4 linked regions of the Homo sapiens genome follow. The protein of the gene in region 3 interacts with the protein of the main gene of each other region in a pairwise test. Each region holds a gene or a part of one and is shown on either strand. Other genes may lie near its edges.

What was found. The genes of interacting proteins can lie anywhere in the genome.
Region 1: the proteins of SNCA (region 3) and LNX2 interact in binary tests that used the Homo sapiens proteins (3 or more experiments, as listed by UniProt).
Region 2: the proteins of SNCA (region 3) and L3MBTL3 interact in binary tests that used the Homo sapiens proteins (3 or more experiments, as listed by UniProt).
Region 4: the proteins of SNCA (region 3) and EXOC5 interact in binary tests that used the Homo sapiens proteins (3 or more experiments, as listed by UniProt).

The regions. Positions count from the first base shown.
Region 1 is NC_000013.11:27,564,897-27,568,529, reverse strand, and holds part of LNX2 (ligand of Numb protein X 2), read left to right. Parts: intron 1-690; coding exon 691-890; intron 891-3,633.
Region 2 is NC_000006.12:130,049,581-130,053,213, reverse strand, and holds part of L3MBTL3 (lethal(3)malignant brain tumor-like protein 3), read right to left. Parts: intron 3,564-3,633; coding exon of another isoform or gene 3,459-3,563; coding exon 3,384-3,458; intron 1,966-3,383; coding exon 1,806-1,965; intron 356-1,805; coding exon 223-355; intron 1-222. UniProt on the Homo sapiens protein: Is a negative regulator of Notch target genes expression, required for RBPJ-mediated transcriptional repression. It recruits KDM1A to Notch-responsive elements and promotes KDM1A-mediated H3K4me demethylation.
Region 3 is NC_000004.12:89,823,635-89,827,267, forward strand, and holds part of SNCA (alpha-synuclein), read right to left. Parts: intron 1-3,633. UniProt on the Homo sapiens protein: Neuronal protein that plays several roles in synaptic activity such as regulation of synaptic vesicle trafficking and subsequent neurotransmitter release.
Region 4 is NC_000014.9:57,262,273-57,265,905, forward strand, and holds part of EXOC5 (exocyst complex component 5), read right to left. Parts: intron 1-3,633. UniProt on the Homo sapiens protein: Component of the exocyst complex involved in the docking of exocytic vesicles with fusion sites on the plasma membrane.

The sequences.
Region 1 (3,633 bases), on a different chromosome or scaffold from region 3:
ATACAACCAGTAAATGACTGGGTTTGTATTTGACTCCAAGACCATGCATCTCACCGTTATACACCTCTGGTACCAGCCACTGCTCTGTTACCCACTAGGAAGTTAACAGAAGGCCCGTAGTCATGGATCTTGGGCATATCATGGTAGTGGGCCCTTGATATTTCCTTTTAAAAATGATTTTCTTTTTCCAAGCTCTACTACAAATTTGAATTTTCCTTGCCGCAACTATGCGCCTTCTTCATTTCCTACGTCTCCGTTCAAGACCCACCTCTTCTTACGAGCTTGATGTGGCTACTCTCTCAACACCTGTGCTGTTTCTATGCCACAGAGCTAGTGTTTCCTTTGTACTGCCTCTCATTATGTACAGTTGTTTCGTGGTCCAAATTTTCTCTCATCAATGAGGACAGAATGACTTTCTTTTCATATTTCTTAATCAGATCACTGTGTCGTCCCTAGTGATCTGATACATAGTAGCTATTTATTATTTACTGATCAGTTTTAGTAGAGAAAATTTTTAGATAATCTTAACAACAGATATTTTGTCATTTTGTTTCTTATCCAGTGATACTGCTTAGCTGTTAATCATGTATTAATGTGACATACTTACCTGAAGATAATCAGAATATAAATTGTTGGGTTTGTTTATTTTTTTAACATCTGTTTTTGTCTGTCTCATTTTTAACTTGGCAGCCACACAACAGCCACTTAGTTTACCAGAAGGAGAAATCACCACGATTGAAATTCATCGGTCCAATCCTTACATTCAGTTAGGAATCAGCATTGTGGGTGGCAACGAAACACCTTTGATTAACATTGTCATCCAGGAGGTCTATCGGGATGGGGTCATTGCCAGAGACGGGAGACTTCTTGCTGGAGACCAGATTCTTCAGGTATCAGTTTTAATTATTCTGTTAACTTGTGCCTTTTTGTTCCATTCTTAACACTTAAACCTTAGAAAATTGTGCTGTTTTGGAACCTAAATTATATATAGATTAGTTTTACTGTTTCTATATGCAAAACATCAGAATTTATGTGTAATTTGTGGTATTTTCCCATATACACAGAGTATTTTTTCTTCCTATCTTAATTTTCATTCCTGCATGCGATGTGGCTTGGCACATGATCTCAGGCTTGCTGAGCTAGCTAGACTCTTCCTTGGGCTGACTAGCCTCTTCCTGCTTGGACTTCTTGAATGACTGTTCAAGGGTCACCTTCATCCATGTTGAAATTATCATCTCATTGGTATTATTTTATACCCAGTTTTCCCATTCATTACCTTCATTGTTGGATTTATCCTTTTCTATACAGACTACTAAAATCTAGAAAAGAAGGAACCATGCAGCACTCATAATTTATACCACAGATTATAAGATAGAGTTCAGAAATCTTGCAGTCATCTCCTATCAACTCCCTAATGCACTCTCCTCAGCAAACACTCTAACTCTGCATTTTCAATAATCCCCTTCGCTCCCCTTACTGTTTTCCCTTTCAGAAGATGATCTTTAAGAAGAAACAGGTATTCTCCAGAAATAACTAGCATGGGACAAGATATTTTATTAGAGGGCAAGTTGAGATGAGGGGAGGAGGATGGTAAGAGTTCTACAATCCCGGAGTTGATGTTAATACCGGCCTGGACCATTTTCATCATACAAAGGTGATAATAATTGAAGCTTAAAAACGGATAACTTCTAGGAGAGAGAGGAAATATTCATGAACAAGAAAAAATGTCTCCTGTCAACCCAAGCGCAGGGACTCCTCTCTCTCCTTGGATTTGTGGTTCGGTCCTTCACCATGACCTGTTGATATCTACCCCCTACTTCCATTTTCCTGCCACTTCTTGAGTCTAGGACTTCTCTTCTTCATATCTAATTTAGTAGAATACCCCATCATATACTTCTGCCTCCCAACTCTCCTCCCTTAAATCTGAAACAATCACTGCCAGGTTAATACATCAGTAACCCTGCTTGCCTTGCAAAGGTTCAACTAGGAGGTCAAGTCCAGACTGATTAATCTAATAGTCAGGGTCCTCCACGGTCTCTTCTACAACCTGTCTTGTTAATCTCAATTCTTCATTTCAGGCACACCAGCTCATTCATTTCTCACAACATTCTAGGCACTATACTAGTTGCTGGTGGTACATTTCAGAGCAAAATACTGACCTGTCCTCGTGGAATATACAATCTAGTGGAAGAGCCAGACATAGCAGTCTTCTTCCTTCCCTGCAAACACCTTATTCCCACATTGCAGCCTGTCCTCATCTCATGAGCCAGTTTGTTCACCTTCATCCTTAAAGCTTTTGTTCAGCCATTCTCCCCCATACTGATTCCTCCTACATTAGTTATTATTGGCATTCATCACTTTTCTCTTCATCACTTGGCACGTGATGAGTTACAGAGAATTGTTTGAACATTTTACGTATGTAGGCATGATCTAAGGTAATTGCAACCACCCTAATGGTACAGATTATGATACAGATTTCTCATAGCTTGTAGTAAGTGCTCAGAAAATATTTGCTGAGTCAATAAAAGAGTGAATTTGAATATAAGATGCTGTTGGGAATAGCCATCTCCTTTATTAAAAGAAAAACTTGGTTAGGATTTTTAGTTGTTGAAAAGAAATCTCTAGACTTGGGGCTATGGGAGTCTACAAAGGCAGCCAGGATTGACCCTACTAGGGATTCTTGGGTTTGATTTCCACTCCCGCTTGTATGCTGCTTTTCATGGTGTATTATTCCTGAAAATAATTAACACCAAGCCTAAAACCTTTCCTTCATTACCCCTAGGCATGGCTGAGACAGACTGAGCTTTCAAACAGTGTTTTTTTTACCAAATACTTAGATGTAATAGACGAATACAGGAACATAACTAATCCAGCTCATATAAAATCAGATTTCTGATCCTGTCATAGCTAGCTATTTAGTTATCCTAGCTGCATTTTATGATATTAGTACTTTAGCTGCACAGGCTGGCACAACTTGTAGGACCCCTTGTATTATTTACATCCTAGCTCCTGACTTGATTTTGCAGAGAGCGACTCTTACAGCTCATTTCCCAGGTTCATCCTCCCAGACATCTTGACACTTTGGTGGTCAGGACCAGGAAGGGCAGATAGTCCTTTTCTGCAGCCCACTGAGTGTTCTTTGACTCTCCCACTTCTGGGCTTTTTAGCTGAAATGTAAGTGTACACTTATTTTTTGCTACTAGCCCAGTATTGTTACAAATGTTTTTATTTATATTTCTTTGAATATAACAGATTTGTTTAAGTTTTTTTACTAATACATTTCATCAGTGGGCTTGTTTCTATTTTAGAGAATGGTTCATTAACACTACTGAATCTTTAGACCTCAAAAGATTGTAATTATCTGAAATTATCAACCATATTTTTGGGAATTAATTCAGTTATAAAGTCTACATTGTAGAAATTCCACTGCATTATTACTGTTTATGGAAACCTGTATACTAATAACTCCAATAATGGCAATCTTACATCTAGTTTAATGATTCAAATTGATAAGAAAAGTCTGAGCACATAATCTGATTAATGAATTCACAAAGGGTCTCTCCTATTATAGGCCCTGACTTCTGGTTGGCTTTTAACTGGTGTGTTGGAGCCAAGTAAAGCCACCCCCCTTTC
Region 2 (3,633 bases), on a different chromosome or scaffold from region 3:
ATCCCACTTTTTCACCCTGAGAGAAGGATACTATTGTTTATGATTCCCATTTTGAGATCAGGACAGCAAGGCACACAGAGGCCATGTAACTTACTGACACTAACACAGATAGTCCTGGAACCCACATTTGAACTCAGTGGGCTCCAGAGCAGTGCTTGTGACTGTGATGCTACCCACTAAAGATGCATCCCTGTGCTCCTGGTGTCAGGCAGAGGCACTCACCATTTCATCATCTCTCTCTTCTCCATCCTCCTTGGTGTCAGCTTTCAGAGATAATTTTGGTTTTTTCTTCCGACTACACTTAGGATCTTCTTCCTCATTGTCTTCTTCTACGTCCCTTTCTTCCTTCTGATCTCTGTTGTGTTTATAAACCCAAAATAGTGACAAGAGACAATACCTATCAAACATCTACTTGTTGATTATCAATGCAACAATCATTAAAAAAAAATCACCCTGCAAAGGAAAAATCTTTAACTACCAGGAGAAATCTGTAGGCATGAGAATATCATATATCAGGAACACTGAAAACAACTATTACATATGACATCTGTCTGTCAGGGCAGAAAATGAAAATTACCTTATATATTAATTTCAAAAGGGGGCCAGCAATATGTATGAAATAGGTTCTAACAAGTTATTTGTCTGTCACATCTACCATCTATACTAATAAAAGAATTGATTATTTAGAGATATTTGTTTTCAGGGTCAAAGAAGGATCTAGCAGTTATTAAGAATGACAAATCCAATTGAAAAAAGGCTAAGTGTAACATTGTGAAACATCAGTTATCCAAGAAAAACAAGACAGTTCCAGTTGGGCGCAGTGGCTCACACCTTTAATCCCAGCATTTCGGGAGGCTGAGGCAGGCGGATCATGAGGTCAGGATATTGAGACCATCCTGGCTAACATGGTGAAACCCCGTCTCTACTAAAATAGAAAAAACTAGCTGGGTGTGGTGGCGTGCGCCTGTAGTCCCAGCTACTCGGGAGGCTGAGGCAGGTGAATTGCTTGAACCTGGGAATGTGGAGGTTGCAGTGAGCCAAGATCACGCCACTGCACTCCAGCCTGGCGACAGAACAAGACTTCATCTCAAAAAAAAAAAAAGAAAAAGAAAACATTTCCCAAGCCTGTGCTGATTAAAATACATGGGAAATGCCACTAAAATATAAATGTCCAGTCATTTCTTTGTAGTATACAATGATATGCAAGAAAAACACCTTCTTGGTGATAAGCTGAACTTTGTCAGACTGTCCCCAAATGGGAAGGTCACACACCACTACCAGTTACAGCTGATGCCTCTGTCTCATAATCCTCAGTCCACACCTTGAGATCATCAGTGACCCAACTCACTACACTCTTCCCTATGGCCATTTCCATTCAGCTGATTACGAATCAGTGGAAGCTTTATGCCGTAGGTGGAGTTTTAACCGAGTTACCTAAGAATTCCCAAAATATAAACAAAACTATGTTTCTATAAATGTCAGTGTCATCGAAATGTGTATATAGCCCAGAAAAAACTAAATACTCTTAGCTGAAGACAATCAAATGAATGGAAATGGAAGACTGAAGGCAGAGGCAGAGGCTGTTTTGCAGGCAGAATATTAGTAATACAACTCAGACCAGGCATGACAGACGTCACCAGGTCCCATATAGGGGTTAGGGCCCATGTGGCCCTAAAGGAAAAGTCTCTGGGAAAAAGGTATCAATAGGTGATCAATGTCCGAGAGCATAAAACTTCTATATTCTCAGGCACCATGACTTTGGAATCTAAAACTCAATTTATAGATGGAATGGGGCAAAAACCTACTTATCTTTGATGTGCCGAGCACAATTCTGGCTGCAATAGTTTCCTCCAGAAAGACACTCATCTACGTTGCCATACTGACAACAGTTCTCACAGAACTGAAGCCCTTCTACTTTCACTGGATCCTTCAACCTGAAAGGCATCCCAGTCTTCTCTGAAAAGACTAGAAGATGAAAAGAAGAAATGCAAATTACAACCATGACAGAAGACATTCTAAAATACAATCAAACTTTTTCTTCTAATAATTTTGTTAGCAACACAATAAAGAATAGTGTTTGCTGAATGAATGAATGATCAAATGATAGTGTTTTCGGGGGGTATGGGCTCTGTAAAAATCACTCAAGTCATTCAAATAATGAAAAAATATTCTGCAGAAAGGATAAAAGCTTGCCCAAGGCTTTTTCTACAGAGTTCAAAGTAAAATGAAGAAAATTTCACTAGTCACTAAATTCAGAAGACGCATATATCGATCTATAGAAACTTCTTCTATATTTGTATCTTTCAGAAAATTTCAGAGGATCTTCTTTTATTTCACATTTATAATCTTTTGATGAATGATTTTGTTTTACTTAATTGGCTAAATCAACATCTCTTCTATTACGCTTTCAATGTAGTACATTTCCTGACTCATAGCTATCCAAATTGTGTAGAAACTCGCATTTCCTTTTGCCTGAATTGTTAGGCTAATCATTCATTCAGCCAGCAGTTATTAGGCACCAATTTATTCTAGACATTAATAATGACAGTAGAGACCTTGCCCAAGAGAGCTCACAGTCTAGAAGAAAAGAGAGGCAAGAAAACCAGTATTTATAATAAAATGTGATACATGCAATACTAGAGGCATAAACAAGGTCCAGAAGTAGTACAGAAGAAGTGATTCATTCAGCCTGGGGTAAGGTCAGAGAAGGATTTTCTGATAGAAAGCCTCAACAGGGTTTTGAAGGCCAAAGAGGAATTTACCAACTGGACAAAGAGAGAAATGGCATTTGAGCCAGAAAAAGCAGTATGAGTAAAGGCAAGAAAGCATGAAACCACATGATGTGTTGGGAAAATTACACGTAATTCTGTGCTGCTGGCACTGCCAGAACACAACATACAAAGAAGGAAACAGAGACTGAGGAGACAAGGCGAGCAGGTAGGTGCAGGCACCCAGATCTTTGTATGTTCTGCTAAAAAGGCAATGAGAAATCAGTGAAGTGTCAGATAAGCAATCTACGTTAAGTTCCTCTGGCTTCAAGGTGCAGGACCAATTGGAAGGGGGTAAAATTAGAAGTAGAGTGACATCTGCAATAGTTCAGATGAGAGTTGAGAAGAGCCTACATTAAGGCCATGGCAAAGATGATAGATAGAAAAGGCCAGATCTGAGACATATTAGGAAATAAAAATCAAGAGGTATAAGTAACAGGATATGGGGATGGGAAGAACAAATTCAGGATGACTCCTGTGTTTCTTGCTTGTCCACTGGGTGGATGGTGCTATTGTCAACTGAAATATGGGTTAGGGAAGAAAGAGCAGGTTTGTGGGGAGGGGAGAAAGAAATAGAAAATGAATTGCATTTCAGACATGTGGAGTTTGAGGTACCTGTGGGACATCCAGGTGGAGATGTCCAGTAGGCAGGTGGAAATACGGGCCTGGAGCTCGGGGGAGAGGTCGGGGCTGGAGATGTAGATTTAGGAGTCATCAGCATATAGGTGTTAGTTACAACCATCGGAGTAGATGAGAAAAAAAGTGGCAGGCTTTTGGCTAAATCACCTGTGTAGGCTACAACATGGATTTACTTAATTTCCAACTAACCTTGTGCTACTACAGATCTGGCATTAGGACAAAGAAG
Region 3 (3,633 bases):
TCTAAGGAAATGAAGGCACATTTTCTTGACATGCTTTGTACTCCCCAGATAAGCCTCAGTCTGAGAGGAGTTACACCATGTCAGCTGTTTAGTGCTATTCACATGACTATTGTATAGGTTTCATCTCACCAGTTGAAGAAGCCAATATTTACTTATTTATTTATTTATTTATTTATTTTGAGACGGAGTCTTGCTCTGTCACCCAGGCTGGAGTGCAGTGGCACGATGTCGGCTCACTGCAAACTCCGACTCCCGGGTTCAGGCCATTCTCCTGCCTCAGCCTCCCCAGCAGCTGGGACTACAGGTGCGCGCCACCACACCCGGCTAATTTTTTTATATTTTTAGTAGAGACAGGGTTTCACCGTGTTAGCCAGGATGGTCTCGATCTCCTGACCTCGTGATCTGCCCGCCTCAGCCTCCCAAAGTGCTGGGATAACAGGCGTGAGCCACCGCGCCTGGCCTGAAGCCAATATTTAAATGGTGTGGACAAAGCAATTTGTTTTCAAATAGACTATGTAAGCTAAGGGGGTCTGTAAGGACAAGAGGCTTTCTCCTTAGTACAGGCAATGTGGGCAAGCCTGACATAGCCACACAGCCCAAGACCAGAAACGGTCCACAGTAGTGTTGCTCCCTATTTGTCTTTTAGGCTAGAATTTTGTACAACTACCTAACAACTCCGTGCCACTTCTAAGGATATGGCTGATGTCTCCTTAAGAGCAAGAGCTATTTACAATTCAAAGTTCGATTTAAATGCCAGCGAAAAGCTGTACTGAAAATCTTATGTTTTAAAACATTTCTGAAATGTTGATCCTTTAAAAATAGTCAATTATGTGTTTCAAGTTGTCATTTTTTTCCTTTTCAAGGACGTGAATTGAAAATTTTGCTTGAAACGAACATTTTCTTGTTATAAAATCTCAAAGCGAGATTAAAAATAGGTTTTGAATTTTTTACAGATCCAGCCATAAATTTTATAATATCTAGATAGCCTTTTATATATGTATAAATTTTAATCTAGTTTTAATGCAATACACTGCACAGTAAAATGTACTCTACACATTATTATAATTTTGTTGTTTTATTATTATAATCATAAATAAAATGGCTACATTACAAAATGACAGAGTGTACATGTAGCAATAATCGACACATTTAAAAACATTTCTGTAGAACTGATTTCTCTAGTAGGGTCTCTGCTGACCTTTAACCTCTATTTTTCCCCTTGAGGGCCTTTCACACTATCTCTCTACTCACTGACATTCCAAATGACGGGTGACAAAACAAAAGGAAAAGAGACACACTCATATTAGTACATTTTGGGTCTAATAAATGGTAACTGTTTTTCGGCAATTGAGTTCTTTGAAATCAGGGATTCTGCTTTATTTTTCTTTATATTATTTCATAGTAGATAATAAATAATTTAGAATATACTAAAATGAATTTAGTGTCTACCTCTAATGTCTGCATTAATATAAATAATAGGTTTATATTTGACTTTAGCTACTTTAAAAATAAAATTCCAAAAAGGAAATGTGATACCAACTTTTAGAATAGATATAGCCAAATCTAACCTTTGACATTAAACAAAATTATAAAATTAATATATGGTTTTGAATTGTTATACAAGTAAATATGTATATTTAAATATACATATGTAAATATGGATTTAAAGAAAATAAATTTGAAACAATTTACTAAGGAAATTTAAATCATAATATGTTGAAAATTAGTTTTGTTCATTATGATGTAATAAATTTATAAGAATCAAAACCTTCAGAAAATCTCCAGTGTTAGAAATTTCTTTATACTATACTTGCATGAAAAATAGGTAACTTTATATCATAGTTTATTTTTAAAGTACCTGAAAAAACATATCATTCAGTAAGTTTAATTAAACACATTTTCATATATTTCTATAATATGATGCATTAAGTTGATAACTGAAATAATTTCCTGAGATCAAACAGCCAGGATTTAAGTTGGTGGATTTTTCATTGATATTATCTAACTAGGATAATTTATTTTATTTGAACTTTGTAGGTAGAAAGTTCCCAGCCCAAGTTTACTGAAGTCTGTATTTCTCCCCTGCCCCACCGAAAAAAAAAAAGCTAATGGGATGAATTTAGGGGAAATTGTTTCTTTAATATTAGAAGATAATATTAGGTACTATGTAATAATTTCTTGTTTCCCTGCATTAAGACTTGTAGCAAGAACAATTAACAATTAGTTAGCACTTAATATGTACCCATAATAAACATTTTACATCAGGCATAATATGCAAATTATTCTCCCTCTCTTTAACCATTGAAGTGTAATTATCTTATTTCTTCTCATAATTAGACTTAAGCACTTTATATTAAATAACCCTATTCAAAAAGTTAATTCATTTATCTGATGTGGGAGAGGAATGATTATGATAGCAGCCGATTTATCCCAATGTGTTTCTCATAGCCATACTAGTTATGACAGCATTTTTGGTTATTTCACTACTGCCAGGGTGGTCCATGGGTGCAATCGCTGTAAATATTGCACATGCTGAAATCACCATGTCCTTACTGCCTAGCAACATTTCCCATAGTTTTCTGTGGAACACTAGTTTCATTCAACCCTAGTAACTAATGAAGAAAGTTTTCAATAATCAAAAAGTTTGAATAACCCTGATTTTAACTATGTAATGCAAATTTCTTTACTGTAGGACATCTCAGATTCCTTAATACGCTAAAGAGAAAATAAAGTATACAAAGTCTCCCAACATTGTACAATGTTAGAAACTTAAGATTGTGAGCCACTGTCCTTCAGAAAACATTTTATAAAATGTCTAATTGTACAAACTTCAGTCTCTCTCTCTCTCTCACACACACGCACACACACACACACACACACACACACACAGATATGTGTTTACATTTTGGCATTCTGGAAAAGACTAAAAAAATGCAGCCCATCTCCACAGTCTCCATTAGATCATCAGGTGACAGTAATAGTTGGGTTCTTTAATTTTTACCACTGACTCCAGAACTTGCCACATGCTTGTCTGCTTTCTAAACCTCATGGGTTCTTCCTCAACTACTAAATGGAACACCATTCATCTAGGTTGACCGTCTTCAGATAGTGGAGTCTCCACCTGTCTGTTATCTAGTTCTTATTATAATCATGCTTCACAATATCATATTTATAGGAGGTCCCTAGAAGGCATCATAGTCCACTTACTTAACTACTTCTCTGTTGGATTGCAACAGAGCCCATTAAAGGTGCACAATTAACTTCTAACAGAACTAGTTTCAAAGGAGTCTGTTTTATTTTTACACTCTGATTTTTAAATCAAAAGTATTCATTTAAAGAAATATTTTTCTCCACTAGTTGTAAAAATGTTGCACAAGAAAGTTCACTATAAAACTATAAGTAACACTTATAAAATACATATTGTTTGCTTTTGTTTTCCAGATGTTTTGTGTACATTAATTCACTGAATTATTTTATAGATGAGGAAGCTAAATCACACAGAGGTGAAGAATCTTGCAAAAAACACACAGCTGGTAAGGAGTAAGCAGGAAGTTGAACCAAGAAGATCTGACTCCTGTGTTTTTAGTCATATCCACAACACTGTATTAAGATTCCCATATCATTGTCCTCATT
Region 4 (3,633 bases), on a different chromosome or scaffold from region 3:
AGATACCATTATTTCCCCCATTTTACAGATGAGAAAACTGAGGTACAAAGAGGTTGGGTAACTTGCCAAGATCACACAACTAGTAAGAGGCAGAGCTGAGAGATGTCTTCCACCTCCTGGCTAAATTACCACCCACATAAAGTGATACTTCCTAAACTGCTATGTCTAACTGTGATCTCTTTCTGAGTTACTAATTCATATTTCCATTTGCCTTGTGGACTTCTTTACCAGGATGTCTTGCTAAAAACTCAAAGTGTAAATACATATGTGTGTGTGTGTGTGTGTGTGTGTGTATATATATATACGTATATATATACACATATATTAAGTATATATATACATATATGTATATATTTATACATTAAGTATATATACATATATACATATATACATAAGTGTATATATATACATTAAGTATATATGTATATATATATGTATATATATGTGTGTGTATATATACGTATATATGTGTGTGTGTATATATATACTTAATGAATATATTATTTCTTCCCCCTGCAAGGGTCCTTCTAATTTTCTCTGTCACAGTTAATGAATCACCAACCACCTACTTTTCAAAGTTTACAAATTTGGAATTTTAACTCCTCAGTAATCAAATTCCTTTAATTCTTCCTCCAAAATTCTTTTCAAATTTCTTCTCTGTCACCATTGAATTAGGTTAGACTTTCATCTGGCCAGATTAATCAGTCAACAGATAATTCTGGAACACTTACCAAATGACAAGAACTATGTCAGGTTGCCCACGATCCCTATTTTCCCAGCTAACAATTTCTTCCCCCATAGAAGGCCATTCTTCACACTAACATTAAAATTGTCTGTCTCCCTGACCCTTACCCAAAAAAAGTAAGGTCAGCCCTCTTGCATGAGGTATAAAAAGCCTTCTTAAAACTTCCCCCAGGCTGGACCCAGTGGCTCATGCCTATAATCCCAGCACCTTGGGAGGCCCTAGGTGGGAGGACCACTTGTGTCCTGGAGTTGGAGACTAGCCTGGGCAATACAATGAGACCCCGTCCCTACAAAAAATAAAAAATTAGCCAAGCATGGTGGCACATGCCTGTAGTCCCAGCTACTCAGGAGGCTGAGGTGGGAGGATCGCTTTTGCCTAGGAGGTCGACGCTGCAGTGAGCTGTGATTACACTACTGCACTCCAGCCTGGGTGACAGAGCAAAACCCTGTCTCAAAAAACAAAAAAACTGGCCAGGCACGGTGGCTCACGCTTGTAATCCCAGCACTTTGGGAGGCCGAGGCAGGTCGATCATGAGGTCAGGAGTTCGAGACCAGCCTGGCCAACACAGCGAAAGCCCATCTCTACTAAAAATAAAAAAATTAGCTGGGCATGGTGGCAGGCACCTATAATCCCAGCTACCCAGGAGGCTGAGGCAGGAGAATCGCTTGAAACCAGAGGCAGAGGTTACAGTGAGCTGAGATCACGCCACTGCACTCCAGCCTAAAAAAAAAAAAAAAAAAAAAAAGCAAAAAAACAAAAAAACTGCCCTCGAACTCCTATGGTCTCAATGCCTTGCCACCACTCCCTATTCTTAAAATATGCACATACACATCCTAACTCTTCTCAACTGCCTCACCTTACAACAAACTGGAGCCATCTTGTGTCTCTGCCTTGGAATGCCCTTCTCCTGTCTGAAAAATCTCTACTCATCCATCAACATCCAATTTCTATATGCCATTACTAAATGAAACCTTTCCTAATAATCCCTGGAAAAGATTCTATACTCCCACTGCGCTGTATTAATGTATTAACATGTCTGTCTTCCTCAACCAGATGCTTAACTCAACATCTTTTAACTCTAGTACCTGGAATGTCTGGCCTACAGATTCATTCAACGTTTGCAGAATGAATACATTCTATCATATCCATGTTACTACAATTGGTAGCCAAGGTCTATAAACACTTAACAACTAATATGGTTAAAATAAATAGCATTTCAGCACCTTGACAGTAACGGGGTGCTCCTTACTTGTGTATCTCATGTTCGTTAGTATATACCTGGCTAGCTAATTGAACAAGAGACATCATTTTCAACAACTCTGTTTAACTAGCTTTTGTAATTTAGTTTGAAAAATTAAGAGACAAATAAATGTGGGAAAAGGTGTTCTTCAATATTCATACTCTAATTTGGAAGTCAAACAGCCATTGCTATCATAGCCAAATTACCTGACCTCAAGCACTATTATCAAGGAACCTATATTTACAGAAAGAAAAAAAAATGAAATTTTAATCCTGGCATTTAGGACCTCCAAAATTAAACCCCGATTTACCTTACATGCCACTCTTCCTCTTTATGTGTGCTATATATACTCCAGCCAAAATGAATGCTCCCCTTATCTCCAGGGCCTACAACCCTCCCTTTATGTCTTAGCTTTTATTGTCTGCTTTACTGAAAAGTCCCTCCATCCAGTTCCACAAACTCAAATCTAATTTATCCTCTGTAGGTAATTCAAATGCCACCTTCTAATCCTTTCTTTCTTCTAGAGGCAATCTTCCCATCCTCTCAACACCTATGGCACATCTAGACCTCTTTGAAACCATTTATAACCTTATTTTTAAGAGTATAGTATCATATATCCACCTTCTCTCCCTCTATTTGATAAGGACAAGTTCTATACTTAATTCTATTTTCCAAAATATGTACCTTGTAATTCACAAAATTAAGTTAACAAGCAGTAGAAAATAAAAGTCTCTTTAAAAAAGAAAGAAAACAGTCTCATGGTGAAAAAAGTTGGGGAAATGGACTTCTCATCATCTTTAACATATTAAGGTATACCGCAAATCTCCAACGAAACAGACTATGCTCATTTCCATAACTTACTTGGTCACTGAACCCTTTTTTTTTTTTTTTGCGACACATCTCATAGGATTAATATTTCTATGGCATGCCCTTTGAGACATGCAGCCTCGTCAATTTCAGAACTTTATCTTGAACTTAAAAGGTACTCAACAAATATCTGTAGAATGAATGAATAATTAACCCTAGTTACTAACCAAGAACTCTCCCGTAATGGTAGCCCAAACAGAGAAAAGCGAAGATTCTTGAAGAATTATGGGGGAAAAAATTAAGCAAATGAGGAAAGAATGTCCTCAGTAGTACAATAAAAGGAGAGAGGAACATTTGCAACAACATAAAAAGAACTGGCGGGGCACGGTGGCTCACACCTGTAATCCCAGCACCTTGTGGGGCCAAGGTGGGCAGATTGTTTAAGCCCAGGAGATCAAGACCAGCCTGGGCAACATGGTAAAACCTTATTTCTGCAAAAAATTTTTAAAAATCAGCTGGGCATGGAGGCAGGCACCTCTAGTCCCAGCTACTCTGGAGGCTAAGGTGGGCAGATGGATTGTGCCAGGAGGGTAGAGGCTGCAGCGAGCAGTGATTACCCAACTGCACTCCAGCCTATGCGATAGAGCAAGACCCTGTCTCAAAAACAAAGAAAAGGAATTTCTGAGCCCAGCCACTTTGTATATGTAGAAGATACAATTTATCTACACCACATAAGAATCCTTACTCAGAATGTCTATCCTGAGGAGATTTTAAAACACTGTACATGGATCTTTTCAGAAAGATCTGTCAACAAAAGTTGAAACTAAGAAGGTATTCTGAG